Linked DNA regions of Homo sapiens. The protein of the gene in region 1 interacts with the protein of each later gene in a pairwise test. Each region holds a gene or a part of one and is shown in the gene's direction. Other genes may lie near its edges.

Region 1 (9,679 bases):
GCTACAGTAATAAAGACACTGTAGTATTCTTGAAACAATAGACAAATAGATCAATGGAACAGTATAGAATGTCCAGAAATAGACCCACACAAATATAGTTAGCTGATTCTTGACAAAGGAGCAGAGACAACTTAATAGAGAAAAAATAGTCTTTTCAGCAAATGTTGCTGAAATAACTAGACATCCACATGTAAAACAATGAATCTAAACACAGACCTTATACTGTTCACAAAAATTAACTCAAGATGAATCAGCCCACTGGGTGCAGTGGTGCTTGCTTGTACTCCCAGCTACTCAAAAGACTGAGGTGGGAAGATGGTTTGACTCCAGGAATTTGAGACCAGACTGGGCAATATAGTGAGACCCCCATCTCAAAAAAAGGAGGGGGAAATCCATTGATCACAGAAGTAAATGTAAAACACAAAAACACAAAACTATAAAACTTCCAGAAAATAACATAGAATATCTAGGTTGTACCTTTATACACAACACCAAAGTATGATCCATGAAAGACAAAATAGAAGTCCTCAAGTTAGACATATGTATGTATGTATGCATGTATGTATTTTTGAGTCAGAGTCTCACTGTGTCCCCCCGGCTGGACTGCAGTGGGGCGATCATGGCTCACTGCAGCCTCGAACTCCTGGTCTCAAGTAATCTTCCCATCTCTGCCTTGTGAGTAGTTGAGACTACAGGCATGTGCCACCACAACTGGCTACGTCTTTCTATTTTTTTTAGAGACCAAAAAATATGACTATTTTGGCCAGGCTGGTCTCAAACTCCTGACCTCAAGGGATTCTCCTGCCTCAGCCTCTTAAAGTGCTGGTATTACATGCATGAGCCACTGCACCCAGCAAGTTGGCCTTTATTGAAGTTAAAAACTCCTGCTCTGAGAAAGACCCTGTTAAAAAATTTAAAAGGCAAGCCACAGACTGGGAAACAATTATTTAAAAACTATGTATCTGCTAAAGGACTTACATTCAAAATATACAAAGAGCTCCCCCAAACTCAACATGATACATGTTACAACATGGATGAAACTTGAAAACATTATGTTAAGTAAAATAAGCCAGACACAAAAGGAAAAATATTGTATGCTTCCACTTATGAACTATCTAGAAGAGTCAAATTAATATGACCGAAAGTAGATTAGAAGTGATCAGGGACTGAGGAAGGCTGGAATGTGGTTATTGCTCAATGGTTAAAAATTTATTTTTGAATCCCAGCACTTTGGGAGGCCGAGGTGGGTAGATCACCTGACGTCAGGAGTTCAAGACCAGCCTGGCCAACATGGCGAAACCCCATCTCTACTAAAAATACAAAAATCAGCTGGGCATGGCGGTGCAGGCCTGTAATCTTGGTGCAGCTACTTGGGAGGCTGAGGCATGAAAATCGATTGAACCCAGGAAGTGGAGGTTGCAGTGAGTGGAGATTGTGCCATTGCACTCCAGCCAGGGCGACAGAGCGAGACTCCGTCTCAAAAAAAAAAAAATTTCTTTTTGGAGTGATGACAAACTTTCGGAAATAGATAGTGGTGATAGTTGCATAACATTGTGAATATATATATATTATTTATATATACATTATATATATATTTAATTATTATTTTTGTGAGATAGAGTCTCCTTCTGTTGCCCAGGCTGGAGTGCAGTGTTGCTATCTCGGGTCACTGTAACCTCCGCCTCCCAGGTTCAAGCGATTCTTCTGCCTCAGCCTCCCAAGTGGCTGGGATTACAGGCACCTGCCACCACACCAGGCTAATTTTTGTAGTTTTAGTAGAAATGGGGTTTCGCCATGTTGGCCAGGCTGGTCTTAAACTCCTGGCCTTAAGCGATCCACCTGCGTTGGCCTTCCAAAGTGCTGGAATAACAGGCGAGAACCACCACCCGGGCTGTGAATATATTTAATGTTACTGAATTGTAAGCTTAAAAATAGTTAAAATGGTGAATTTTATGTTATGTACATTTGTCACAATTCAAGAAATTAGTAATGTAATATAAATATGCAGAAAAGCATTGAATTATACACTTTAAATGGATGAATTATGTGATGTGTGAATTATATGATTTTGGTATCTTGTTTAAAAAACCCTTTGCTATCCCAAGGTTATAAAAATATTGTTGCAAAAGCATTAATGTTTGCTTTTCCCAATTATGTCTTTAATCAATCTATAATTGATTTTGATGTGTAGTATAAGACAGGGATCTAATTTCATCTTTTCTCACACAGAAAACTAACTGTTCCAGCAACATTTATTGAATATGTAACTTTACGTCTGCTATAGATTAAGTTATCCAATATATGTGAACCTGTTTGCTGGCTTACTTCCTTGTCCCTTTGTTATGTTTTCCTGCCTCAGTACCAGTCCCACATTGCTTTAGTTCTCATAGTTTTAAGTCTTCATGGCTATAAGGGTAAGCCTCCTTCCTAATTCTTCCTCAGGAATGCCTTGGCCCTTGTTAGTGCTTTATCTTTCATATGAATGTCAGCATAACTCTGTCATATCCTTTGAAGAATGCTATAGAGATTTTGTTTGCAATTTTAATGAATTTAACATTAGTTTGTAAAGAAAATGATATTTTCATTATTTTGCATTTCCCATTCACAAACATGGTATATCTCTGCTTTTATTTATATTTCTTTTATGTACTTCAAAAAAGTTTTATATTTTCCATACAATACACACTTTTCTTTCTTTCTTTTATTTTTTATCTTTTTATTTATTACCTTAAATTTTTTTTTCTGCTCCTACGCCACCAGGAACAATTTTCTCTTGTTAAATTTATTCCTAGGTATTTTTGGTGGTATGTGGAATGTCATCTTTTTCACACTTATATGATTGAGTGATGCAATTGATGTTTGTATATTGAGCTTGTATCTTTTAACTTTGGTGAACTCTCAATTGTTTGAACAGTTCCAATGTATTCATTATGTGTTGCCTATAAACATTTTAGTATTGCCTACTATCTGTAAATAACAGCTGATTTCTTTTCAATCTTCATTTCCTTTTCTTCTTTTTAAAATTGCCTTGGCAAAGACCTTCAAAACAATGTTAAATAGAGGCAGTAATAGGCTTCCTTTTCTTACCATTCCCTTCAAAGGAAATGCTTTTAATGTTTCATCTTTAATTGTGATGAACTTCTATGTTGTAGGTAGATACATATTAAAACAATTTTGAAGTTCTGGTTTAAGAAGGAAAACAATGAACATCTAATAACACCTCATGTAACTCAGTTCTTTTTTTTAAAAACAAAAAAACAAAAAAACAGGCCTGGCCAGGCGTGGTGGCTCAGGCCTGTAATCCCAGCACTTTGGAAGGCTGAGGCTGATGGATCACTTGAGGTCAGAAGTTTGAGAGAAGCCTGGCCAACATGATGAAACCCCACCTCTACTAAAAATACAAAAAATTAGGCGGGCATAGTGGCACATGCTGTAGTCCCAGCTACTCAGGAGGCTGAGGCAGGAAAACTGCTTGAACCTGGGAGGCGGAGCTTGCAGTGAACGGAGATCACACCACTGCACTCCAACCTAGGCAACAGAGCAAGACTCTATCTCAAAACAAACAAACAAACAAAGAAAACCCCAAAGCCAAACCAAAACAAAAAACCCCAGGGTCTCACTGTGTTGCTGAGGCTGGAGTGCAGTGGCATGATCTCTGCTTACTGCAGAGATCACCTACTGGGCTTAAGCAATCCTCCCACCTCACTTTCCCAAGTAGCTGGAACTACAGGAGTAGGCCACATGCTCGATTAAGTTTTGTATTTTTTGTAGAGATGGGTCTCACTATGTTGCCCAGGCTGGTCTTGAACTCCTGGGCTCAAGCTATCCTCCTTCCTTAGACTCCCAAAGTGCTGGAATGGGCCACTGCGCCTGGCTCAGTTCTTTAATCTTCAGATTAAAACTTCCAGCCATGCAGTAAACTTTTTCTTAGTGGAAAACATTATATGCTGTCTCATTCCTAGATTGTAAACTCTTTGAAGGAAGAGACTTCTTTCTTGAAACATTACCAGATCTTGTCTATATACTGAGACTCAAATTCTGCCTCTCTCTTGGGTCCTGAAATGGACACACTGGATACCACCCAAAAGTTTATGCATGGCAGACTTATGCTAAACAATCTAAATTAGCATTCAGGATCTTTTTACTACACCTCAATTCAACCACTTGTAATTATGTATTTATTTTTTTTTTTATTCCACTGAGCTAGGCACTGCTGGAGCTAAAAAGATGAGTAAGACCCAGTTATGCCTCCCAGGAGCACGTATTTGTTGGAGGAGATAAGACAAGCTCATGCATGTACATGCAAGTACAAACACAAAACACAGAGAGTTAAATACTAAACCAGAGGTATTAATACAAACCTCTTGGAGTTCAAAGAAGAAACAGTAACAGTTGGGCAGGTGGGAAAAAGGGACCATTGGGAAGAATTAGGAAAAATCTCATGGAGGATGTATCATTTGAGACAGACCTTAAAGATTTAAACAATGTAATAGAGGGTACTGGAAGAGTGTTACCATTGGAGGGAATAACATGCAAGGTATGAAAGTAGGAACAAGGAGGCCAGTTTCAGAGGCTCTGTTTGGCAGGAATATGTAGAGTATACAGAATGAGTTATAGATGGGGTATGGTCAGACCATGAATAATAAAAATAGAAATAATAGCTTGAATGCCAATGTAGGTTTTTAGTAATGCTGTTGTCCCCAGAGAGCCATTGTAGGAGTTTTGAGTGGGATGGTGTTGTGGAAGCTTGCTCCTCTCCCATCCTTTCTCTCCTGAGCAATATTAGCTTTGCCTCTGTCCAGCACAGCAACATACCAAAACTTCAGCCAACGAATCAAACCCCCAGGCTCCGGACCTTCCTACAAGGTACCTCTTCTTGGAAAGCTGTCCAAAATAACACAGAAACCAGGCACTAGATGCTAGTAAATGTGTACCCACTCTGTGTATAATACAGTGTGTTGAAAGGGTGTTCAAGAGTAGACGGTGTTCAAATGAAGAGTACAGATAAGAGGTCTTTGGTGGTTATAATATTAATAGCAATACGGGGCAGGGAGATGCGATTTCAGGGTGTCAAAGAATAAACTGACGAAGAGAAGATGAATGCAGACAGTAAATTCCAACTACTGAGCCTGGAGAATGAATTGTATGTGGCCAGCCTTTCGAGGCAGCCAGGACTTAAATTGGCACTAGTGTACAAAGTGTGAAACCCGAACAACTAGGGGGGTTATTTTGAGGCCACCCATTAGGCCTTAGAAGCACTATCCCTCCTAGTGCAATGTTGAAAGGACTGGACTCTGAGGCTGTTGAGATGGACCTGGAGAAGCTGTCTGTGTGTGTTTGATGATCTTAAGTTTTACTGTGACGTGGACTTTGAGGTCACTGGGGTGGGGGGAGGGAAGTACCCTTGGCATTGGCAGAGCTGGAAGGTCTGTGCAAGCTGGCTCCTGCTGGGGAATCAATAAAGGAGGCAGAGCAACGCTTTTTTTTTTTTTCGCCGTGGCCAGGGCAGGGTTCTGCCAGGGCTCTATCGCCAATGGAGCAGGGGTCCACCTGGGGCCTAGGACGCCTGCAGATAGCCCTCTCTTAGCCCCAACGGCCGCGGGCTTCAGCGCTCCCCGGCTCCCTCGCTCTGCAGGGTCTTCCCGGTACCGGCAGGCCGCGGCGGGAGCTGCTTTCGCTCTTAACCTTGCAGGTGCGTGTGCCGCGGGCGCCCGGGGCAGGCAGGACGCAGAGGAGGAGGCGCCCGCCATGCCCGGCCTGCGGCTCCCCGCCTCGGCTTCCCGTCCGCCGCCCCCGCGGAACGGCCTGCTGCAGCCCCTGTGAAGAGGAAGAGGCGGCGGCGGCGGCGGAGGAGGAGGAGGCGCCGCCCCCTTGGCAAGCTCCCCGACCCGGCGGCCTCGGCAGGACCCATGGCGGATTCCTCGCCCGCACTGTCCCTGCGGGAAGGCGGCCCCCGCGCGCCGCGGCCCTCGGCCCCCTCGCCGCCGCCGCGCTCGCGCTCCGGCTCCGAGTCCGAGGAGGCCGAGCTGTCGCTGAGCCTGGCCCGCACCAAGACCCGCTCGTACGGCAGCACCGCCAGCGTGCGGGCGCCGCTGGGCGCCGGCGTCATCGAGCGCCATGTGGAGCACCGGGTCCGCGCGGGCGACACGCTGCAGGGCATCGCGCTCAAGTACGGTGTCACGGTGAGCAGGGCGCGCCGCCGCGGCCCGGGCTGGCAGCTACCGCGCAGGAGGCGGTGCGGCTCGGGGTGCGGTGGGGGTGGGGGTGGGACTGCGGGTGGGGGTTTGGGGGATGGGGAGTCGCAGGGACGGCCGTGCGTCCCCGGGCGGCTCGGCTCCCAGGGCTCGCTCAGCGCGCGCTGCTGGCCACCGCAGTGGTCGCCAAAGCTGGTCCTGCAGCGGGAGGGGCGGACCGCCAGGGCTCCCTCCCTAGGTAGCTGCATCGAGTTCCCGGTGCCCCGCCCAGGCTCAGACTAGATCTGTCGCGTGAGGGAGGCCGAAGAGGACTAGGGCTTTGGCATCCCCGTGAACCACCTTCACCCAATTTGCAGGCCCCATCACACTACTCTATATTTACGCAAAGCCCAACTGAGGTGAATTTTGTTGTCTGTGAAAACAAGCTCCGTGATGAGTCAGGAATGGTGCAGTTGTTCCTACTGGGTGGTTCTGGTTCTATCGATTATGCTTCTTTATGTAGAAGTGAAATTACACCCTCTGGGCTCACTGGCAACCGCGAATGTGACACCTGTCGCTAAGCAGCAGCCAAGAACTGTGGTGAGCTGGAGGGCTGCGTTTATTACAAATTTATAAGTGTGTGTGTCTTGGGTGTATAGCATTACACCTCTGGGAAGAACATGGAAACCTGAGGGAACAAATTGTTTCATTAAAATTACTTATAATTAACTGTGAGCTATGTGATGGCCTTTTTACATTTGGGATCTGTATCAGTTTTCAGTGTTCTTTCCTGAAGCACCTTAGACAGCAATGGGAAGAAAGAGGATCTTATCTATATCTTTCCCTTAAAGTGAAACTCTTTCTGGCCCTTTACCGAATGAAGGAGCATCAGTATGAAGGAGAATGTATTTTGCATATTTAAGCCGGTATATGTTTACCTATCAGGTCCTTCTATCTTTGAAATATTTTGAAAGGGACCTTGCTGTGCAGTCATGTATTGACTCTATCATGCCATGGAGAGCCCCATTCTGCCCTCTTGGGAGTTCTATACATGTGAACATAGAGCTACAATTCTCTATGTGCCTTAATGGGGCCTGGTTTGAGTCAGAGGCAGAGGAAAGCGAAGTTGGGAAATACCAGTAGCTACCCTCTGCTGAATGCCTCCTGTGTGGCAGGCATTGCGTTTGTCTTGTTTCATCTTTATCTTATTTAACTTTCACAATAAGCCCAGGAGGTAGGTGTAATTAATCTTTTTACAGATGAGAAGATGGATGAGAGGTAAGGATATTTTCCAAGTATGATCATTCATTGAGACCAGCTTGAATTAACAGTGATAAAGCATTTGCTTTCCTCTAGATATTACTTTTGATATCCATCCTTATTTTTATCTTAGTCTTATCAGGAGCTCTCTCAGCATCCTGGCTACTGAAGGAGGACAGTCTTTTCTATCTGGTTTTCAGGCATCTTGCCTTACTAGGCTAGTGACAGCACCTAAAAATCTATGACATGCAGAAGAGTGTTATTTCCCATGCTGTCTTCCCGTGCAATCTCTCTGTGACCCACAGCCGTCTGTGGTTTCACTTGAGTTGATTATAGATAACTCTTATACATCTGTTTACTGCAGTTTTCCACCTTTGATCAAATGCTTTCTAATCCCTGTTATGTCTAATATAGATCCTATTACTCATAACCTCATTACCCCTTTTTAAAATTAAAGTGTAGATCAGATTTTTCGTTGCTTTTATAAAGACTTTTGATTTTAAGATATTAAACACAAGGATAATGAATCAGGAACTATAATTGATAGTGACACATAGTTCATTACAGGGTTTCCCAACCTCAGCACTGTTGATGTTATAGACCAGATAACTCTTTGTTGCACGGGGTTGTCCTGTGCAGTGTAGAATATTTAGCAGCATCTCTGGCCTCTACCCACTAGATGCCAGTAGCACTCTCCCACCCCTATTCAGGCATTGCCGGATGTTCTCTAGAAGGCAAATTTACCCCTGGTTGAGGACCACTGGTTTATTACATGTATTTCTCATTACTTTGGGCCCTGGCTTATAGTTGATAAAATTTTTAGAGACTCCTCCACTGGTAATATAGAATCAGTGAAAGTGATAATACTTACCATAACAGTGAAGTGATATTCTTGTTTTAATATCTTCAGATTTTTTTTTTTTTTGAGACAGGGTCTCACTCTGTTACCCAGGCTGGAGTGCAGTGGCACTAACATGGCTCACTGCAGCCTCAGCTGCCGCTGCTCAAGTGATCTTCCCACCTCGGCCTCCTGAGGAGTTGGGACTACAGGCTCAAGCCACATGCCCAGCTAATTTTTGTATTTTTTGTAGAAATGGGGTCTCATTATGTTGCCCAGGCTGGTCTGGAACTCCTGGGCTCAAGCAATCCACCCACCTCAGCCTCCCAAAGTGCTGGGCCTACAGGTGTGAGCCACTGCACTGGTCTAATATCTGCAGATATTAATTAGGTTTACTCATTGTGAGATTTTAAGGTGGAAGCTAAAAAGGCAGAAAAATATTTTTCTTCTGACTGAACAGAAAGAAGTTGAGCAAATTAGGTTTCTGTTGTTGACTGGCAAGACCATCTACAACATATTTAAATGATTGTTTTAAAAGGTCGAAAATGAGATATTGGAGGCTTAGAGACTCAAGGCAGTGCACCTAGAAATTAAGTCAGTTCAGCAAACAGTTGACCTTAACATACCATGTCTGTCAATCTTGCACAGATGAGCAGAAACTCTCAGGAAAGCCTGTCTCTCCATGGCAACTCCTCAGCCACCCAGCTGGGTGTCAGGCAGGACTTCAGTCCTTTGGTGGAAGACTGATTAAGAGCCAGTCGTAGTCTAGGTACAAGGAAGTTCCCAGAACAGAGACTCCGACAAGGGGGTGAAGATGGAGACCTGGTTGCCAGCCCTGGATTACAAGGGTAACAAGCTGGGAGCCATTTTCTGAAGTGGTGCTGAAGGGCTGGCAGCAGGGCATATCTCAGGATGTGAGAATAGATCCATGTTCCTCAAATTGGCCTGGGCAGGACAGGAATACTCTGGGGCAAACTAAAAATAAAGGATCCTAGCTGACATTGGATCTATGGGATTGGAATACCCAGAAAAGGAGTCTAGGAGTCTCTGTTTTGTTTGTTTGTTTGTTTTTGTTTTTGAGACAAAGGCTCACTTTGTCACCCTGGCTGGAGTGCAGTGGCCTGATCTTGGCTCACTGCAACCTCCGCCTCCCGGGTTCAAGCTATTCTCCTGCCTCAGCCTCTCGAGTAGCTGGGACTTTAAGCACACGCCACCATGCCCGGCTAATTTTTGTATTTTTAGTAGAGATAGGGTTTCACTATGTTGGCCGGGCTGGTGTTCAACTCCTGACCTCATGATCTGCCCACCTTGGCCTCCCAAAGTGTTGGGATTACAAGCGTGAGCCACCGCATCTGGCCAGAGTCTCCATTTTTAACAAGCATGGCTGCTTTGCTTGTTCCCAAAGCAC
Region 2 (10,510 bases), on another chromosome or scaffold:
CTGAGGCAAGAGAATCGCTTGAACCTGGGAGGCAGGGAGGCAGAGATTGCAGTGAGCCAAGATCACGCCACTGCACTCCAGCCTGGGTGACAGAGCAAGACTCTGTCTCAAAAAAAAAAAAAAAATTAAAAGGTGAGAGAGCCAGCACCCTTCTACAAAGGTTAGAATGTAACAAAAGTCCACCAAGAGTTTTGCCCAGGCGTTTCCTGGGCCTTGAAGCATGACAAGATAACAAAGGAATTCTTAACAGGACCCATTTAGGATTAAACAAGTTTTATTGGGGTCTAAAGGAACGCCCCAAACCTCCATGATTTAGCAGGAGACAAGATAAGGGTAATCACCCCAGCACCTGGACCCCTCCAGATTAAATAAATTTACTGAGGCTCCAGAGGAAGATCTTCAGGACTCAGGCGTTCGTTATAGATTAGAAGAAGTTCATCACTTATGTCTTAGGGGAATGCACACTTACACATAGACATACAGCTTTGAAGGTATATAAGCTCTGGAAAACTTAGTAATTTTGAGTTGGTCTGGTGCTATTATCTCAGTACCCATTTACAGAAGCAAACTCTCTTCTTTCCCAGTTCATCTGCATCTCGTTATCAAGCCGTGAGAATTAGCTGCCCAACCCCGGGTTCAGTCTGGGTACAATTTGGCGAGCCAGCCAGGAGAAAGCGGCTAAGCAGCTTCACAGATATGGCCAGATTTTGTCGGATTTGGATTCCTAACTATGGATTAATGGGAAAGCCCTCATGTGAACTGTTGAAAGGGGCCGACCACGATCTTTTCGAGTGGGAAGAAAGGCACCATCACTCGATCAACAACCGAAGTGTAAGTGAATCTTCACCCCCGCCTTAGGGCTTCCAAATCCTCCTCAGCCCTTCCAACTGGATGTGCACGAGAGACTGGGTTTGGCACTTGGAGTCTTAATGCAAAGGTGAGGCGAAGCGTTACAACCCATAGCACATGTTTCAAAGCAGCTTGACGTGGTAGCCAAGGGCTGGCTGGGCCTTCCACCTTCGAGCAGTTGTTGCTGCTTGCCTGCTACTCGAGGGAGCTGAGACGCTGACCTTGGGGCGGCCTGTCACAATACATACGCCCCACCACATGTCAGTGTTATTGCAGCACAAAGGAGGTTACTGGCTGACAGCAGGCCAGTTGGGTAGCTATCAAGCCATCCTTTTAGACGACCCCGAAATAAAGCTGCAAACCACCAGAACTCTAAACCCTGCTCCACTATTCCCTGCCACCGAGGAGCTGGAGAAACTCTACATAACTGTCTAGAGGTCATAGACCAAGTGTTCTCCAGCCACCCGACCTAAAGGCTGTAGCCCTCCCGCGTACAGACTGACCTTGTTTGCAGGTGGGAGTAGCTTGGTCACCGACAGGAAGAGCAACACCATGTATGCCGTGGTGACCTCCTCAGAGGTAACAGAGGCAAGAACTTCGTCGGCAGGAACCTTGACACAGAAGGCAGAGTTAATCGCCCTTACAACTGTCCCAAGTTAAGAGCGCCAACATACACGCTAATTCCAAGTACGCATTCATGATAGTTCACGCCCACAGAGCTATCTGGAGGGAAGGAGGGTGGCTAAGAGCGGATAACACCAAAGTTAAAAATGCTAAGCAAGTGTTAGAATTGTTAGAGGTGGGCCGGGTGTGGTGGCTCACACCAGTAATCCCAGCACTCTGGGAGGCCAAGGCAGGTGGGTCACCTGAGGTCAGGAATTCGAGACCAGCCTGGCCAAAATGGTGAAACCCCGTCTCTACTAAAAATACAAAAATTACCCAGGCGCGGTGGCGCGTGCCTGTAATCCCAGCTACTTGGGAGGCTGAGAATCACAAAAGAATCGCTTGAACTGAGGAAGCTGAGGTTGCAGTGAGCCAAAATCGCGCCACTGCACTCCAGCCTGGGCGGCAGAGGGAGACTCCATCTCAAAAAAAAAAAAAAAAAAGTTAGAAGCGATAAAGGCCCCACAGGAAATAGCCATAATGCATTGCCCTGGCCATCGACGCAGTAATTCCGAAGTGGCAAGGGGTAATGTTTTCGCAGACTGCACCGCCGGGCATTCAGCCAGTGACAGCATCGAAATCCAGGCGCCCTTAATTTCCCAAATAGACTTCACGGCCCTCGAGCCCCGGTATGCTTCTGAAGATAAAAAGGCTGCAGAAGATAAAGGATTCAAACTAAAGGAGGAAGGGTGGAGGCTAGAGAGGAAACAGCGCAGGCATAGGCTGGGCGGCAGTGCATCTCGTCCACCCGCTGTTAAAGTACGTTCACGATAGCCTGCACTTTGAGAGAGTCGCTTCATTGGCCTTTGTACAAAATTATTTGAAAGGGAAAAGACTAAAGGCCCACGTAGAGAATATCATTCAACACTGTCATCTGTGCGCCCGGAATGAGCCTAATAATCATAGCCGAGGGCAGCCTGGGCAACAAGAAAGAGGCAGTCACTCACCAGAAAACCAGCAAATAGACTTCACACAGATGCCACCAGCCCCTGGGAATGCAAATACCCCCTAGTTCTAGTGGGCACCTTCTCTGACTGGGTGGAAGTGTGCCCATGTCACTCCGAATGAGCAACTGAAGTAAAGTTTTGCTCAAGGAAAGCATACCACGATACGGGCTCCCCGACGTAATCCAAAATGATAATGGGCCTTTGTGCACCTCTGAGATAACTCAACAAATGAACGAAGCATTGGAAATGAAGTGGACGCTGCAGTCAGTGTGGAGACCTCAATCTTCTGGACAAGCTAAGAGAATGAACCGCAGCCTAAAAACATTCATTGCCAAGTTGTGTCAAGAGGCTCCGTTGAAATGGACTCAGGTACTTAGCATTGCACTGCTCCCTGTAGGTGGGATTAAAATAAGTCCCTGCGAAACCGTCTTTGGGAGACCCTTTGCAGCCAATCTGTCTCGGGCCACCAAAGTGCCCCTAGGTAGGGAGTCGGCTATTCAGAATCATGTTGCTCACTTAGGACAAACTCTTAACGTTTTGCATAAGTTTGCTTCCAACACGGATGCGGTGAATTCCACAGACACCTGCCACCCACTCCTACCTGGCGATCAAGTGCTGCTGAGGGAATGGAAGGAAGCTGCCGCGATGGGAAAAATGGAAGGGCCCTACCACGTGCTCCTGACCATGGACGCAGCATTGAAGCTGGCAGGCATCAAGCCTTGGGTCCATCACACATGAGTGGAAAGATCCCTGCCGGCCAAGAGCCCTGCAGCACAGGAATCTCTGGCCACGGCTGGGAAGCAGAACCCCTAGAAGGCCTGAAGTTTCTATTCAGAAAACGCTAAGACTTTCTCTTCTAGCGCTCCGTCTTGCAATGCCTGCTCTTACCTCTCATCTTCTCTTACGCTGGGCACAGGACTAGGCAGATAACCTGCAGCCAGCCTCCTTCAGGGTCTGTGGCCTCTCACCCCTCTCTAGCACCTCAGGGTTGCCTTGGCGGGGGTCGCCCATCCAAGGGAAGGACTGGATTTACCTGCAAACCTTTTTGGGAAATCTAAAATCTTGGACTGGGTCACAAATGACAGGAGTAACCAGCGCAAATGTCTCAGAGTGGCCCATAAACAAAACTTTAGAAGGCCCAGGGCACAAAAGGCCATTCTCAGTAAACAAAACAAGGGATGATGCAACCGCTTTAGCTATGCCCTTGCTGAGTCCGAAGGTGGATGTCCAGGCTATTGTACCACAAAATGTCCAGTATAAAAACGGCTTTCTTCGAATTTGGAATGGATTTATTTGGCTAACTGCCTCCACCGGACATTTAAACCAAATAGCCCCCTTACGCTACAAACGACAGAACCCCTCCCTTGACCACCGACTTTAACATAAGTCGAATCATGAGACAGATTCCGCCCACCGCACATTGACCACTGGCCTAACAACTCGAATCGTGGGACGGATTCCGCCGCACATTGACCACCGGCCTAATGTAACTCAGGTTATGAGACGGATTCCGCCACACATTGATCACCGGCCTAACGTAACTCGGATCATGGGACAGATTCTGCCGCACATATTATAGTGCTACAACAAAGAGATTTGGGTTTTGTTTGTTTTTTTTTGAGACAGAGTCTCTGTCGCCCAGGCTGGAGTGTGGTGGCGCAATCTCGGCTCCCTGCAACCTCTGCCTCCCGGGCTCAAGCGATTCTCCTGCCTCAGCCTCCCATGTAGCTGAAATTACAGGTGCCCGCCACCACGCCTGGATAATTTTTATATTTCTTTTGTAGAGACGGGGTTTCACCATGTTGGCCAGGCTGGTCTCGAACTCGTGGCCTCAAGTGATCCTCCCGCCTCAGCCTCCCAAAGTGCTGGGATTCCAGGCGTGAGTCACTGCGCCCGGCCCTCAGTAAAGAGATTTGTTTGCCACCAACTGGTCCCAATGGCCTTGCCTACACTGGTATGCCCCTGACGGAAGCCAGTGGCTTTGTGGCACCATTTTATGGCCATGGCTGGCCTCGGGCACGTTGAGACACTGCACTCTAGGCCTCCTATGGGCACAGGGACCTTGGTAAAAACCATCCAAAATCCAGTCAATCTCCCACATATGCGTAACAGATGGACAAGGCCAGTCTTTCACAGGTACGGTCATCTGGCCGTAATATTTATGCCCTCAATGGGCTTAGAAATGGTCATATGGCACACAGAGGCACTCGCTAGTTTTACGCAGTGAGGCTTAAACGACAGTCTCCAAAGTGTTTCCCGTGTGAATGCTGAAACATACCATAGGTGGAAAGCTATCCTGCAAAATCAAATGGCCCTAGACATTCTAACAGCGGCCTAGCAGGGACCCTGCACCCTCATCAGAACCGAATATTGCATGTATGTACCTGACAATTCCGGGAATATTTCTCTGGCATTAAAAGCTATCATCCACCGGGCGCGGTGGCTCACGCCTGTAATCCCAGCACTTTGGGAGGCCGAGGCAGGCGGATCACGAGGTCAGCAGATAGAGACCATCCTGGCTAACACGGTGAAACCCCGTCTCTACTAAAAATACAAAAAATTAGCCGGGCATGGTGGCGGGCTCCTGTAGTCCCAGCTACTTGAGGGGCTGAGGCAGGAGAATGGCATGAACCCGGGAGGCGGAGCTTGCGGTGAGCCGAGATGGCACCACTGTACTCCAGCCTGGGCGACAGAGCAAGACTCAAAAAAAAAAAAAAAAAGGGCTATCGTCCACAGATGCAGGTCATCTCCAGCCCTAGGTTATCGGTTAATGACCGAACCACATCATGGCTTAGCAGAGGGTCTCCCTCGGGGCTGAACGTCCTCGCAGTCCAGGCCGTCCTTGCAGGCACCGGCATCATGTTACATTGTGGAATGTATTGCTGTTGCACATTGTTCCAAAACATCCCTCCAGCTCATACTATTTCAACAGGCGCTTTCTCTAGGCCCCCAAAACAGAGAGTACTACTGGGAACAAATCAACATCTTTCACTCCAACACTGCGTTTGGTGCCCCGTAACAATGACCTCCTATCAGCAGGAAGTAGCCAGAAAGATTATAATGCCCCATCCCCCCATGATTCTCATAAGAAATAAATATACAAGCATGATAGCAATCATGCATAATTTGACAGTGGGGATTGTGGCAGGCCAGGTCTCACTAACGGCTGAATAGGCCGGCCTCCACGACAACTGTTTCAGCACTGACCGGGTGGTGAAGTCAAATATTAAAAGCTGAGAGGGCCAGCGCCCTTCAACAGAGGCTGGAATGTAACAAAAGCCCACCAAGAGTTTTGCCCAGGCCTCTCCTGGGCCTTGAAGCATGACAAGATAACAAAGGAATTCTTAACAGGACCCGTTTAGGATTAAACAAGTTTTACTGGGGTCTAAAGGAACGCCCCAAACCTCCATGATTTAGCAGGAGAAAAGATAAGGGGAATCACCCCAGCACCTGGACCCCTCCAGATTAAGTAAATTTACTGAGGCTCCAGAGGAAGTTCTTCAGGACTCAGGCCTTAATTATAGATTAGAAGAAGTTCATCACTGTGTCTTTAGCTGAATGCACACTTACACGTAGACCTACAGCTTCGAAGATATATAAGCTCTGGAAAACTGCAATTTTGAGCTGGTCTAGTGCTATTTTCCCGGGCTTCTGCCTGTACCCGGTGACAGAAGCAAACTCTCTTATTTCCCAGCTCGTCTGCATCTCGTTACTGGGCTGAGAGAATAAGGAGCGAATAAGCGCCCGGCCGTCGGTTGAGTCTGGGGACGCTGTGACTCACCATTGGCTCCGGCCCCAGACGCTGTGCTGGGGAAGGAGCGGGAGGGGATGGGAGGGGAACAGGGACACCCTGTACTCCACAGACACAGCCACCATGGGTCCTCTTGCAGGCTGAGAGAGAGGCTGTCCCCTGCATTTGGGACAAGGTGCCTGCCTCCAGTGAGGGGACAGCAGGTTCCTTTGCCCATGGATCCAGGAAGCTCCCACAAGGGAGTGGGGTGATCTTCCCCAAGGTAGAGAGGGCAGCAGCCTCGGGGCCTTTGGCTGCATGCCCAGTGGGCACAGGATGTGTGTGGACGGGCCACAGAGTGGGCCGCCCTGCAGGGCTGGAAGCCGCAGGGCAGCAGGGTATAAAGGGGGTGGGCCGAGGGCTGAGGCGTCCACGGCAAAGATGGCTCTGCTTCTGCTGAGCCTGGGGCTGAGCCTCATCGCAGCCCAGGAGTTCGATCCCCACACCGTTATGCAGAGGAACTACAACGTGGCCAGGGTGTGTCTGCGTTGGGGTCTGTGGGGAAGGGGCCAGGCTTCAAGGCACCTGTCTTCCCCCAGCCTGGGGTCTCTGACCTGTGACCAGGGCAACTGGTCCAAGGGGAGCCCACCTCTCCTCCCCAAGCTGTGACAGCAGCCTGGGAGAGCAGGGGTTACTCCGGGAGGGTCGGGTGGGAGAGGCCTGGGAGAGTGACTGGGGCCCTGAGAGGTTAGAGGGGGCCCTGGGAGGGCAGAGGGGAAAGCTGGAGAGTGGAGTGGCGGCCAGCAGGGAGATGGGGGCCCTAAGAGGACAGAGGGGTTCCTAGAAGTATAGGGGAGACCTAGGGAAAAGAGGGGGACTCAGTGGGAAAGGGTGGAGCGGGGGACCTTGAGAGGACAGAGGGGGACCTGGAGGGGCAGAGGAGAGACCTGTGGGGCAGAGGGGGCCCTGGAAGGGCAGAGGGCATTCTGTGAGCAGAGGGGGGACCTTGGGATCAAAGGGGGGATCTGGGGACATAGGGGAGACCTGGGGGGCAGCGGGGGCCCTGGAAGGGCGGAGGGCATTCTGTGAGCAGAGGGGCGACCTTGGGGGTAAAGGGGGGATCTGGTGACGAGGGGAGACCTGGGGGCACTGGAAGGGCGGAGGGGTTCTGGTTGGGAGCCAGATGCTAAGGGGCCGGGCCCTGGGAGGGAAGACTGTGGGCGCTAAGCATCCCCAGGGCTGTCCCGCGGCCCCCCACCCACTGGAGCTCTTTGTCTTCAGGTTTCAGGGGTCTGGTATTCTATTTTCATGGCCTCAGATGACCTGAATCGGATTAAAGAAAATGGAGACCTGAGGGTCTTCGTCCGGAATATTGAACACTTGAAGAACGGCAGCCTAATATTTGATTTCGAATACATGTGCGTGTTGCCCATCTCAGCTGGCATCAGGAAGACCCATGCCCCTGCCACCCCAACGCATACTCTCACTCTTGCACACACACGCTCGCACACTCACTGACTTGCACTCTGGTGAGAGCCTGAGCCTGTGCGTGTGACCCTTGGGGGCAGGGTGAGGTGGGAGCAGGGACTTGGTCTGCCTGGCACTGTGCTCTTCCCTGAAACATAGAGATGAAATCGCCCCCTTCCAAGGCTGGGGTGAGGTTCGAGGAGATGAGGGTGTCCGGTGGGCTGCAGCAGGGCCCAGCCCAAGAACTTGGGGCTGTGGAATGAGGCCTGGGCATTGGGAGGGTGAGCCTGTGCCCTGGAGGAGGGGTGCTCTCTGCCATCGCACGTCCAGGGGGCTGGAGCTCCACTCCCGGCATCTTCCTGGCTGGCTTCCAGGGTGCAGGGGGAGTGTGTGGCTGTGGTCGTGGTCTGCGAGAAGACAGAGAAGAATGGGGAATACTCCATCAACTGTAAGTGGAAGCCAGGCTCCTCCTGGTCTCACAGTCGGGGGTCTCCTTTCTCCAGGGCCTGGGCCATATTCTGGTGAGCACTGACTCTGGGGATTTTAGTTAAGCCCCTGACAGCTTGACCCTGAACTGGAGGGACCCATCCTGGCACCTACCCAGGGGGGCTCCTGGCCCAGGGGAAGCAGGGAGGCAGGTGTGTCATGCTGAGCTCTGGGGGGTGAGCCCACTGAGGGGCCACCAGGGTCTGCAAGCCAATGACAAGGAGGGAGGGGGCTGTGCCGCTGCTGCCCGCCCCCTGTGCAGGGGTCTCCGCTGGGTGAGCACCGTGGGCTCCTCCCCTCCCGCCTCAAAAGGCCACTTGACCCCCCATCCTCACTTGCGGCCACACAGCACGTGTCACAGGACCCTGAGGGTGGCGGGGCCAGGCCACGCTGAGCCATGTCTCCACGCAGATGAGGGCCAGAACACAGTGGCCGTCTCGGAGACTGACTACAGGCTGTTCATCACCTTCCACCTCCAGAACTTCAGGAACGGGACCGAGACCCACACGCTGGCGCTCTATGGTACCTCCGCTGTCCCCCTCTGACCCCCTCGGGGACCCCACCTCCTCTGAAGTCCGGCCCAACCCTGGGCGGAGGAGGGTCTCGCAGTGGCCCTGGGGTTTGGAGAGGTGGTTCCCGTTGGCTATTCCTTCCCACAGACACACCGTTAGGGTGCTGGGTGCTTCAATCTGTCACCTCCCATCTCACTTGGCACAAAGCCCCTCTCTGGTCAGGGCGTGACCCCCTGCCCAGCCTCAGCACTTCCTGAGCACCCCCAGCAAGGCCCAGCTTCACACAGAACCAACTCTGTTCCCAGCACGGGTCCCATAGCTGGAACCCTCCTTCCTGAGCAGATTTGAAGAAACCTGCGAAAAGTACGGACTTGGCTCACAAAATATCATCGACTTGACCAACAAAGGTCAGCCCCACTGCTCCCGGACCAAGCGGGAGCCGGGACAGGGTGGGGATGGGAGGTGTGCCTGCGGGGTCCCTGTCCCTGCGCTGAGAGCCCCCTCTGTCCTTCCAGATCCCTGCTACTCCAAGCATTACAGGAGCCCGCCCAGGCCTCCCATGCGTGAGCTGCGACTCGGGACGGGCAGGGGGCTGGATGGGGAGAGCTTGGGGCCAACGTCAGAGGCTGCGGGGTCCCACCCCAGGAGGTGCCCATCCCTCCCCCTGGTCTGGGAACCGAACACAAGGTGCTTTGGTGAAAGATGCTGTGAAAAGCATCCTGGAGTCGGGGCAGTGATGGGGCCTTCCAGGGTGGTAAGGTCTGAGCAGGAAGTGAGATGGGGCCCTGTGTGAGTCTCCAGGGGCTGATGTCACCATATGCGGGTGACTAGGACAACCAGGATTTACTTTCTCACAGCCTGGAGCCCGAGGTCTGAAACCCGAGGTCCGCAGGGCTGTGCTCCCTCCACCAGCTCCCGGGAAGGGTCCTTCCTGCCTCTTCCGGCTGCTGGGGGCTCCAGGCATCCCTGGCTTGTGGCTGTCACTCCAGCCTCTGCCTCTGTCTGTGTCTCCTCTTCTGTCTCTTCTAAGGACACTTGTCATTGGATTTCGGGCCCATCTTCATGCAGAATGATCTCCCGTCAAGACCTCAACTTCACACCTGCAAAGACCCTTTCCCATCAGATGCCCTTCACAGGCTCCAGGCACTAGGAAAGGAGCATGTCCTTTGAGGGACACCACTCAGGTCACCACAGGCTCCTTCTCCGAGCTGCCCCTCCCTTCTCAGACATGGTCCCAGCCCAGTAAAAACCCCCAGGGCCCCCTTCCCTTCCCAGAGCCTGAGCCTCCCAGAGATACGCCTCTGAAGGCACCTCTGCATTTCTGCACGAGGGTTCCTGAGGGTAAAGGAGTGGATGTACCTGTGGTGCGTGGTGGCCCCAAGATGCGGGTGAGATGAGATGGCAACCGGCAACCAAGGCCCTACCCCTCCCCTCTCCGCCCCTCCCCTCGCTGACCTTCCCCTCCCTGTCCCTCCCCTCTCTGCCCCTCCCCTCCTGTCCCCTCCCTGGGCTCAGCCACTGCCTTTGGGGGAAGATGATCAACAATGTCACAGCTGAGGCAGGTGCCTGCGCCCCCGCCTCCATGTTTTGGTGAATAAAAGGGAGGTACCAGCCAATCTGCGGTGACTTTGTGGGTTAAAAGTGATTGTTGGTTGGGCCTCTGTCAGAGATGTGAAAACGACTGCATTTGTATGATGCTCTCGAAATCACAAAACCGCAGAGGGGGACATGAGTCGGTGATTTCCAGAGGTTACAAATGGAAGGTAGGAAGTCAGCCAGAAAGGGGCACCAGGAGGGGCCCTGGTGACGATGGAACGTCCTGCACTGTGACCCTGGCGGTGGACATGACCCTGCAC
Region 3 (10,184 bases), on another chromosome or scaffold:
AATCTTCCTGGCATGCTGTTTGTTCTCTAATGACACTTTGTTAGATCCTGCTTTCTGGCAATGTACAGTGGCAATCACACCCTGACTAGACCAATGAGACTGTCAGCTTTTTGAAGGCACAGTGTTTTGGACAAATCTGTCCCCCTACTTCCCGCACCTCTTGCTGAGTCTAGCACGTTTGTTGAATGAATAAGAGAATCTGCACAGCTAGAGTGACCCCAAATAACCTAGTTTTGTTTTGTATTGTTTTGTTTGTTTGTCTTTTGAGATGGAGTCTCGCTGTCTCGCCCTGTCCAGGCAGGAGTGCAGTGGCCCAATCTTGACTCACTGCAACCTCTGCCTCTCCGGGTCAAGGGATTCTTTTGCCTCAGCCTCACGAGTAGCTGGGACTACAGGCACCCACCATCATGCCTGACTAATTTTTGTATTTTTAATGTTGGTCAGGCTGGTCTCCAACTCCTGACCTCAAGTGATCCGCCAGCCTCCCAAAGTGCTGGGGGATTACAGGCATGAGCCACCATCCATGCCCAGCCTCCGAGTTCATTTTTATCCCGTTTGGAGAAGTGTTTCTTTCCAAAATTTGTTTCTGAAATTTTGAAGACGTTTTATCAAAATGCTTGGGACGTTAGCACGTGACTAAACAAATAAATAAAAACTATGAGCTCTGCTGTCCATGAGTTTATATTCTAAAGCAGGGACAAGGAGGAGCTAGAGATCGTCCTTTATCTTATGGCATTATAGTGTGCTTGGCTCTTCAGAGGGCGAGATGGGAAACCTATGAAACTTGGACTCGGAGCTGAGAAGTCTTCTTCTGCTCAGAATCATACAGGGTCGGAAATAGACCAGACCTGAGAAACCATCCTGCCCAAACTCTTCATTTTGCAGGTGAAGAAAGTGAGGCCAAAGGAGACTGTCTTGCCCAAGGCCACCAAGCTAGATGGTGGCATAGCCTAGATTGAATAGTTTTAAAATAAAGCAGTAAATAAAGCAATGCATTAAAACCTTTCTGCAGAGACCCTGGGTTAGAAACTTAATCTTTTATTATTTTTTATTTGTATTTATTTATTTATTTTGAGATGGAGTTTTGCTCTTGTCGCCCAGGCTGGAGTGCAGTGAGGGGATCTCAGCTCACTGCAACCTCTACCTCCCGGGTTCAAGCGATTCTCCTGCCTCAGCCTCCAGTGTAGCTGGGATTATGGGTGCGCGCCCGTCATGCTGGCTAATTTTGTATTTTTAGAAGAGACAGGGTTTCACCATGTTGACCAGGCTGGTCTTAAACTCCTGACCTCAGGTGATCTGCCCACTTCGGTCTTCCAAAGTGCTGGGATTACTAGCGTGAGCCACCTCGCCTGGCCGATACATAGCCTTTTAAATCATTAATAAGTGCTAGAGTATCAAGCATAGAAAACAAAAAAGATCTGTAACAAAGTCAGGACTTAAAAAAAGAAATCCTCAGGCTATGTCTTTGAGAGTTTTTGGTTAGGTTCAGTGTGAACTTTGAAGACTTTCCTTCGCTTTCAGTCCTGACTTGATGGGCAGAGGTACGTAGGGAAGGACAGGCATTTCTCAATTCCATTTCTAAACGTTGCCTAAGAACACGCTGTGTAGACCACAGGCTTCTCTGCTTTCAGGAGCAGGAGAGGGTCTCCCAGTTCTTTTGAGCCTTCCCACTACCAGGGGGCAAGTTCCCTAATTAGTTGATCTAAGAAGCCTAACCAACAAGATCTGTGCAAAATGGATTATTCCTGTTCCAGTTCGACGTAATAGCAAGGCTGCCTCTTTGCTCAAGAAAGGAAAAGCCACAGGACTTTTCTTTCCATCACCACCTTAATTAATTCATTAATGATTTTTCAGGCAAGTTTTATTCAGGCACTTTGGGACAGAGCAGTGAGTCAGAGGTTGGCATCAAAACTAGAATAGAAGCTGTACTTCTCTCTGGGGATTCTACTCCGGGCTTTAGATTCCCCGATCATACAACTTCCTAATTGGAAAGAAATGTTCCTAAACAAGAGCAGGTGTTTTGCTGGAGCCTGACAGTGACTAATAAGGTCGGTCTAAGGACTGACTGATGAAAGAGAAGCTGGATTTACTTGTCACAGCGAATTTTTAAAAGTTCTTTCACCCCGAGGTTTACTGCTGAATATAAATAAAAGACCTCTCCTTGGGCAATCCCATCCCAATTCCTACAAATATGCCTTAGTTAATTAAATTAACTTTGAAATGACATTCCGTGTCTTGCTCCAAATTGCCTTTGTTTTCTCCAAGATCTGCTCATTGACAAGCTGTTTCACAAGGTTCCTGTTTAAAATGGTTATGTTTCGTCCACAGACTGCAGACGAATTGGAGACAGGTTTTATCTATAGCCGGCATGGAGTAGCCCTCGCGTTGTACTCATTTAACTGTGGACCAATGGTTCACAAACATACAATTAAAAAATATATATCTAGGGTGTTTACACAGTATCCCGATAAATACAATATGGTAACTTAAATCTCCTTTGCTGAAATTCACACAACTGAAGGCCAATTCCTGAGTTGGCAATGGGGTGTGGATTTTAAAAATTAGTCTTTTTTAAAAATCAGGCCTTCGCTTTCGCAATTCAAGTGGCTCTCGGCTTAAACACATTAAGTCCCAAGCTGTGACTCCCTTCCAGTGAACAGCCGCGTAGGCGCGGGCACGCACACGTGGACACACACACTCACACGCGCCCTCCCACACCCCTTTCCGTGTGAATCGCCTGCGGGATTTAGGGCTTCTCCACCAGCGATTACTGTCAGGTGCAGAAAGCAAGCCTCTTTGTTCTATGGGCATTTTCCTCCCCCTGGATTTGACTGTTATTTACTGGCCACGTGAGCGCCAGGCGCGGGTCCGGCGGGGAAGGCGACCCCAGAACAGGGTAGACAAAAGCTGGCCCAGAGCGCGACCCGTGCGCCCCAGGGACGTCTCCCCAGCTCCTGCGACACGCGTGAAATTGGCCCGGACCTGCCTCCTGAGAGGCTTTTCCCAGAAATGTCTTGTTAAAGCCTTTGTAAAGGAATCAGTGTTTACTTGCGCCGGGAGAGCTCCGGCCCTGGGTCCTGGCAGGCGGCGGATTTCTGAGCTGCTGGAGAGCAACCCGGGAAAGCAAAATCAGCCTTGGACTGTCGGGGCCCCTGGGGCTCCTTGCTCCTTATCGAAAGCGAGTTATTAGATAGACCCCCACAGTCCCATTCAGCAGAATGGGAAACTGGACTCAGACACCTTTTGCCCTCCCCACAGGGAGGCCACGCCGTGCGGCTTTGACCACTGATCTCCCACCCGGAGTGCCCGACGCCCAGGGTCCTGCCACCGGGCAGCCTCGGTCAGTCCACAGTTGTGGCTCCTTCCAGGGCCTGGACTAGGGTGAGCACAAGCCTTGAGCGCAACATTTAAGAAGGGCGCCGAAAAGTCAGTAATCAAAAGAAATATCTTGATGCAATGCCTCTTTAAAAGAAAAAAAAATGCAAAAAATCCATGATGAATAAAATACTAAATTTTAAAAAGAGAAAGGATCCGTGCAGTGCCATCGTAAGCCATTTTGGAGCCCGGAGCAAAAGGAAATATCACCTTGCCCAAGCGGTGCCCCTACAGCTCATCCGAGTAGGGCCCGGGGGTCGAGGCATTCGGGGCCCAGTGGGGGACGAGGCCAGTCGAAGGTCTCGGAAGTGGAGGCTCCGCCGAGCTCCGGTCGGGGAGTGCAGGGATGGCCCCCGGGACCGGAGGTGAGAGCTCGGGAAAGCCGCTCCGCCCGGAACAAAGGCATGGGGAGAGGGTGAGCTTGGGCGGGAGAGACCCGGCGGGTACCGGTGCCCTCGCTGCCTGGGTCGGGCTTCCACGCGCGCCCCGGAATGGAATACGCTACTCTGCAGCCTCCGAAACTGCGAGCGAGTCCTGTAACTCCCTTGCTCTGTGATTAATTCTCACTAACAAGACTTGGCAAGATGTCGGGCGAATGATTTTTGGCTTCTGCACGGTCCCCACCGCGTGCGTGCACAAACCCCCAGCCAAAAGCCGCCTCTGGGAAATTAAATGCAAAAGAGAAATGGGGATGGGGAGGGCTGCTACGTGACCAGGAAAAAGGGATGCCCAGAAACATGAATCGGACCCAGAGCTGCTGAAGTCCTTTCAAAAGGTCATTCTTTGCGGGTACATTTTCCAGGGTCCAGCTCCGCAACAAATGTGGACCCTGTCATTTCCTGAAAGGATAATTCACAACTATGCAAGATAGGGTGAAGACGTTTCCCAAACCCGAAAACCTTGTTTTTCCCCCGACCAGGGTTAAATAAACATCTTTTAGGAAGCGTGGACAGGAGCGCAGCCTGCTCTCCTCCCTCGGAACACCATTCCGGCAATTAATGCCTCCCTTTGGGTAGTAAAGCAACAAACCCCACACCTCACTCCGATCCTGGGCTTCGGGCGGGAGGACTTTCTCTTTCATCTTCCAAGCAGGGGGTTGCCCACGTTCTTGGGGAAGCTATAAAACTGATTTAATGGCTTTAGATGAAAATCGATCACGCTAATGCATACGCTAACGTCTCAGGAATCGCATATTCAGAAAGGACTGGCCGGGCCGAAAGCGCACGGGGAGTCTGGGGCTAGGAGGTGTCAGGCCCCGCTGGGTGGGCAGCAGCGCTCCGGTCCCCTCTCCACTTGGGTAACCGGGAAAAACCTACGGGGCTGTCACGCGGGGAAGCGCGAAGGTGCCAAGGGATGAAAGCTCAAACCCGAGCCCTGGCCTCCTCAGCCGGCTATTTCCTTTGGCGCCGCCCGCCTAGCGGCGGGGTGCAGCGGCGGCACAGGTGCCGGTGTCGGGCTGGAGGCGCGGCGCAGGCTGGGCCCGCGGGTAGACGGCGAAAGGCGCCGCGCGCTCCATTCACAAAGTCCGGGCGCTGCCCGCCGCTGGCGGCGGGTCGGAGGCCGCCTCCCTCTTCCTCTCGGCCTCGGTTTTATGAATGGGCCTGATGGCGAGCACCCGGCGCCCTGTTTACTCCGCTCTTTGTGACGTCGAGTTCCCGTGACCGGGAGCCAGCGGCCGCGCTCCATTCAAGCTCCGGGGAGGGGGTGGGAGGAGGGGCCCGGAGGGGGCGGGGAGTCAGCGCGGGGGGCGGGGGACAGCGCGGGGGGCGGGGGACGGCGCGGGGCCCGGAATGGAACGGGGCGGGGCCTGGCGGGGTAGTACCTAGCGCCCCCTCCCCCGGGAGCGCGGAGGAGCATTAATAAACCTCTAAGCCGAGGAGAAAACTCTGGCTGGGGCAGTGCGCTGAGCGCCGGAGGAGCGTAGGCAGGGCAGCGCTGGCGCCAGTGGCGACAGGAGCCGCGCGACCGGCAAAAATACACGGGAGGCCGTCGCCGAAAAGAGTCCGCGGTCCTCTCTCGTAAACACACTCTCCTCCACCGGCGCCTCCCCCTCCGCTCTGCGCGCCGCCCGGCTGGGCGCCCGAGGCCGCTCCGACTGCTATGTGACCGCGAGGCTGCGGGAGGAAGGGGACAGGGAAGAAGAGGCTCTCCCGCGGGAGCCCTTGAGGACCAAGTTTGCGGCCACTTCTGCAGGCGTCCCTTCTTAGCTCTCGCCCGCCCCTTTCTGCAGCCTAGGCGGCCCGGGTTCTCTTCTCTTCCTCGCGCGCCCAGCCGCCTCGGTTCCCGGCGACCATGGTGACGATGGAGGAGCTGCGGGAGATGGACTGCAGTGTGCTCAAAAGGCTGATGAACCGGGACGAGAATGGCGGCGGCGCGGGCGGCAGCGGCAGCCACGGCACCCTGGGGCTGCCGAGCGGCGGCAAGTGCCTGCTGCTGGACTGCAGACCGTTCCTGGCGCACAGCGCGGGCTACATCCTAGGTTCGGTCAACGTGCGCTGTAACACCATCGTGCGGCGGCGGGCTAAGGGCTCCGTGAGCCTGGAGCAGATCCTGCCCGCCGAGGAGGAGGTACGCGCCCGCTTGCGCTCCGGCCTCTACTCGGCGGTCATCGTCTACGACGAGCGCAGCCCGCGCGCCGAGAGCCTCCGCGAGGACAGCACCGTGTCGCTGGTGGTGCAGGCGCTGCGCCGCAACGCCGAGCGCACCGACATCTGCCTGCTCAAAGGTAAACGAGGGCTCCGGGCGCTAGCTGGAGTCGGGGAGATGGAGGGGGTCTTGGCGGCCTGCGCCTTATTGGCACGGGAAGGAGTCCCCGGCGTGATTCGTGGTTGCGGGGATCCCCGCGCGCCCCTTTGTGTGTGTTGGTGTGTAGGGGTTTGCAAGGTTTCTGTGCAAGTGCGAGGTTCAAGTCCTCAGGGAAAGTGCGGACGGGTTTCTCCGGTCACCTGCAATTCCGCACCGTCCTAGCGAGGCCCCGTTTATTGACATTAACGGTCCTAGCCTCGAGGATGAAGCGACTCCTCTGCGCGGTCCATCTTGAGTCCCGGGAACAGTTTCCAAGTACCACGGGGCGCGTGGGGACAAGATAGGCCTGTTGGTTTGGCGTGCTGGGGCCCTACACTGAGCCGGACCGGGAGAATCCCAGAGGTGGAGAAAAGGTGAAGAGGGGTGGGCGCCGAGGTACAATTGGCCTTGCCAGTTTCACTGAAAACAAGACCCTGGCAAATGCAGAAAGGGAGATTGGGTTGCACACACTGTGTAGAGCGATCTGTATCTGCGTTCCCGCTGCCCAACTCCAAGCTCAGCTTGGAAGGTGGCCAATCCCCGTCCCGGGCTAGATCCAGGCTCTGGGAGCGGGAGGCTGAAGGACTGGGTATCTGGGGGACGCCGGGCGGAACCGGTCCTCTAGCGCCTGCAAATCCGGGCAGCGGAGAATGATCACCTTTTGTTCAGCCCGGATTTTCGACTATCTGATGGCGGCGCGTGCCGGATTTTAGCGAGCCCTGGCGAAACTCTCGGCGGCGAGACTGTCTTGTCACATTTGGTAGTCGGAAATCCTGGAAAAATCGCGTGCTGTCCGAGTCCCTGGAGGGACCTGGCGCCCGCCACACCTGCAGGGCAGGGTGGGTCCGCGGCCCTCGGGCTAGGGAGCGGGCAGGGCGCGTGGGGTCCGGGCGCCCCCCGCCGCGCTGCGCCTCCGCCTCCCGCCGCCGCATTCCGCGCATTCTTCCGCGCGGGTAGGGTCTGCGCTTCCGAGCCCGGTAGGCAGTTCAGACCCCCCCACACCCATCAAAGAGCCGCTCCTCCCCCCCGCAGGCGCCTTCGCCGCCTCCCTCCCTTCCTTTCCTTTCCGCTCCTCTTCCGACCTGTCCACCCGGGAGGAAGGGAGCTGGAAAGGGGGCGGAAACCTCTCCCCTCCAAAAAGCACAACAAAACTGTTCAGTGCGGAGGAGCCGGGTTCGCCCCTGCCGGACAGCGGGGGGCTTTGTTCCCCGCAGTTGTTTCCTGCCCATTTGACCTGTCAGCTGCTGGGGAAACGCTGCTGTTGACCTTTGGTTGAACTGCTAAGGCGATTTTGCTGATTTTTCTTTCTTTTTCCGCGAGGGCTGTCTTTTGCTCCTCCAAATGAGCCCAGTCCCCCTCCCTTCTCCCCAAAGCGCTCCAAGAGAAAGTGCCAGGAAGGGGCTTGTCCCGGAAGGCCTGGCGGCTGAGCGGGGCCAGGTCCTGGTTAGGCCACCAGGGTGGGCGTCCGCGCCATTGTTTGAGCTTGTCGGCGCTGGTGGGAGAGATGAGGGCAATTCCTCTGGGACGCAAGTCCCCTCGAATGGCCGGGGCTGGCCGGGATGTTCCCCGCACGGCGCTGCCCTCGAGTCCCCCCGATGGAGAGCGCGGGCGCGCCTTCCTTCGCTGGCGTCCAAACCCGGGACCAGCTAGAACACAGCAGGGCTGGGACTGGGTTCCAGCCCCACGTGGAGTCTGGATTTGTTTTGTTGTGTTTTGCTTTCCTTCCTGGAAGAAATCCCGAGGGGACCGCCCTAGAGCGGCAGCTCCAGGACCTCGGCCCTTGGGCTTCCGGGGGTGCAGCCACTTAGGCCCCGCTCCCGGGGAGAGAGGGATTATTTTTTAAGATTTATCCCCAGGGCGCGCGGCATTTCCCTGTCCCTCGTGAATCCCGTTGAGAGTCCTCCCTCCCCAACCTCCTCCATTTCCCCAGCCAGACCGATTCGAGAGCCCTGGAGATTCTGGGCGAGGCTAGTGACTGGGTAGTACAGGCCTCTAGGTAAAATGACAGCCCTCTGGTGGGTGGCGAGGTGCCTGGCCAACATAAGAGAAGTACTTTAAGGGCTGTTTCCTCCTGGAGCCTGCACTGCCTCTCGTAGTCGGCCCCGACGCGGGCAGGGAGAATCATCTTCTGCATCTCAAAGTGGACATCCTTGCAGATGGAGGTGTGCAGGCCTGGGCCACAGATTTAGCTTCGGTCTCTTCTAGAATAGCCCCTCCTAGCCAGAAGTTCAGCTTCTGCTTCCAAAGGGAGCCTGCCCTTGGAAGCAAGCACCTAAAATTGAGAGGTGGGGGAATCTTCCAGCCTGCTCTGTTGTGGTGAACATCGTTGAGGTTAACTGGGCCCTATTCGGTTTAGCTTAGCTGATTTTGACATATGTGTTCAGCAGAGGCCATCTTTAACCCAGTTCCTCTTCTTCCTCTTTGCCCTCTAATGGAAAGGCATCCCTAGAGAGGTCAGAAGGAAAAAGTCAGTATCTGCTCCCACAGCTCTGCGGGAAGGGGCTGGGGAAGGAAATCAAGGTGTCTCCCAGGTCTCCAGATACACCTCCCTTCCATGCCTGGAAGCCAGTGCAGTGGAGCAAATGTGGTTTCCCGGGAGGGGGCTCTGGGGCAGAGACCTAAAGGGGAATTTTGAGAAGCAAAGGAAGAAAAAGCCCCTTAGATTATCTTTAGTAAATGCCTGAATTGGTGAAGGGTTGGAGAATTTGTTTCCTACTGGAGTAATTCATTTTATTTTCCAGCGAGGGAATGTATGTATGTCTCATTTCAGGTGTGCCTGTGCGTGTCTGTAAAGCAGGACAGGAAGCCAGTGGAAGGCTTGATGGTTGGTGTCTGCCATTCTTGGAGGGGTTAGGAGAAGCAGTAAAAGCAACAAGAGTATTTTCAGAAGTGATAGTAGCATGTCCAGCCAAAGCTATCTAATTCTATTAATTGCATTTTAAAATTCAGTTTTTCTATTTCTGCCACGTTGAAGGGTTACTTCAACCACGTTGAACTGGTTACTCCATGCAGGTGGCAGGAGGTAAACTTCGCTTAATATCAAGAAAGTACAGCCTAGCCTTTACATTTCCTCAGATTACCCGACTTTTGCTAAAAGCAATAACGAAAAATCTAATGTTTTCTATCTTTGCTAGTAAAGGATTTCCAGTGGGGTAATTTTTTTAAAACTCATTTAATTTAAAATCTTGTAAGGCATTTTTAGAGTCAGTTTGGAAATTTTAGTTTTTCAGATTTTATCACAATACACTTCTTGAAATCCCTTTCTCTCTCATTCGTAAATCCTTGGATTAGAGTTTGAGACTCCCCTGGTCATTAGAGAAAGACAAAAAGAGCTTTTTCTTACCCTATTCTTTGCCTTTATTAACCCCAAATAACAAAATAATCTGTTATGCAAAAAGATTGCAGGTATAAAAACATTACCTTCCTTTCCACCTACCTAAAACTTCCCTCAGCCTTTGTCAGTTCTAATTTAAAAGCTGTCCTGGAGCTGTTGGAGAAATGGGGAAGATCATCTAGATATTCCAGTTTCTCCTTCCACTCACCCTATAGTACCGGATAGCATCCAATAGCCCAGGGCCTGACCATACAGCCCATGATATTACCCTTTCTGTAGAAAACAGTCACTAAGGCCACTGATGAATGTGGGGGGAGAGGAACACAATTAACAGCTCTGGAAACTCTGGTGACATTTTTCTGTTTTTTCTCTCTCTAGCCCCACCATTGCTCTCTCTGTCTTCAGTTCCCCAGGAGGGCAATGGCATCAAACAGCACAGCTCTGGGGGATGTCAATATTGCATACCTTTTCTACCTAAAGGGAAAATGACTCGCTTTTCTGCTTGCAAATATGGTAGTTTCTGCTTACAAATGTAATACAATGCCCATGACAGCCAAGGACTGGAAGCATAAGTTGCTAGGTCTTACAGGTGATTTTTTACAATGAAGCAAACTCACTATGTTAGACACCATTTACATTGGATGTCTCCAACTAACAAAAGTAACTAAAGACAGATGTAGGTGTAAATTGA

The links.
Region 2: the proteins of LYSMD2 (region 1) and LCN9 interact in binary tests that used the Homo sapiens proteins (3 or more experiments, as listed by UniProt).
Region 3: the proteins of LYSMD2 (region 1) and DUSP4 interact in binary tests that used the Homo sapiens proteins (3 or more experiments, as listed by UniProt).

The regions. Positions count from the first base shown.
Region 1 is NC_000015.10:51,733,853-51,743,531, reverse strand, and holds the start of LYSMD2 (lysM and putative peptidoglycan-binding domain-containing protein 2), read left to right. Parts: upstream 1-5,876; 5' UTR 5,877-5,909; coding exon 5,910-6,182; intron 6,183-6,469; exon of another isoform or gene 6,470-6,592; intron 6,593-9,679.
Region 2 is NC_000009.12:135,656,692-135,667,201, forward strand, and holds LCN9 (epididymal-specific lipocalin-9 precursor), read left to right. Parts: upstream 1-6,617; 5' UTR 6,618-6,630; coding exon 6,631-6,726; intron 6,727-7,470; coding exon 7,471-7,607; intron 7,608-8,030; coding exon 8,031-8,104; intron 8,105-8,553; coding exon 8,554-8,664; intron 8,665-8,959; exon of another isoform or gene 8,960-8,996; coding exon 8,997-9,052; 3' UTR 9,053-9,061; intron 9,062-9,169; 3' UTR 9,170-10,270; downstream 10,271-10,510.
Region 3 is NC_000008.11:29,345,762-29,355,945, reverse strand, and holds the start of DUSP4 (dual specificity protein phosphatase 4), read left to right. Parts: upstream 1-5,261; 5' UTR 5,262-5,667; coding exon 5,668-6,100; intron 6,101-7,140; exon of another isoform or gene 7,141-8,155; intron 8,156-9,871; exon of another isoform or gene 9,872-10,184. UniProt on the Homo sapiens protein: Regulates mitogenic signal transduction by dephosphorylating both Thr and Tyr residues on MAP kinases ERK1 and ERK2.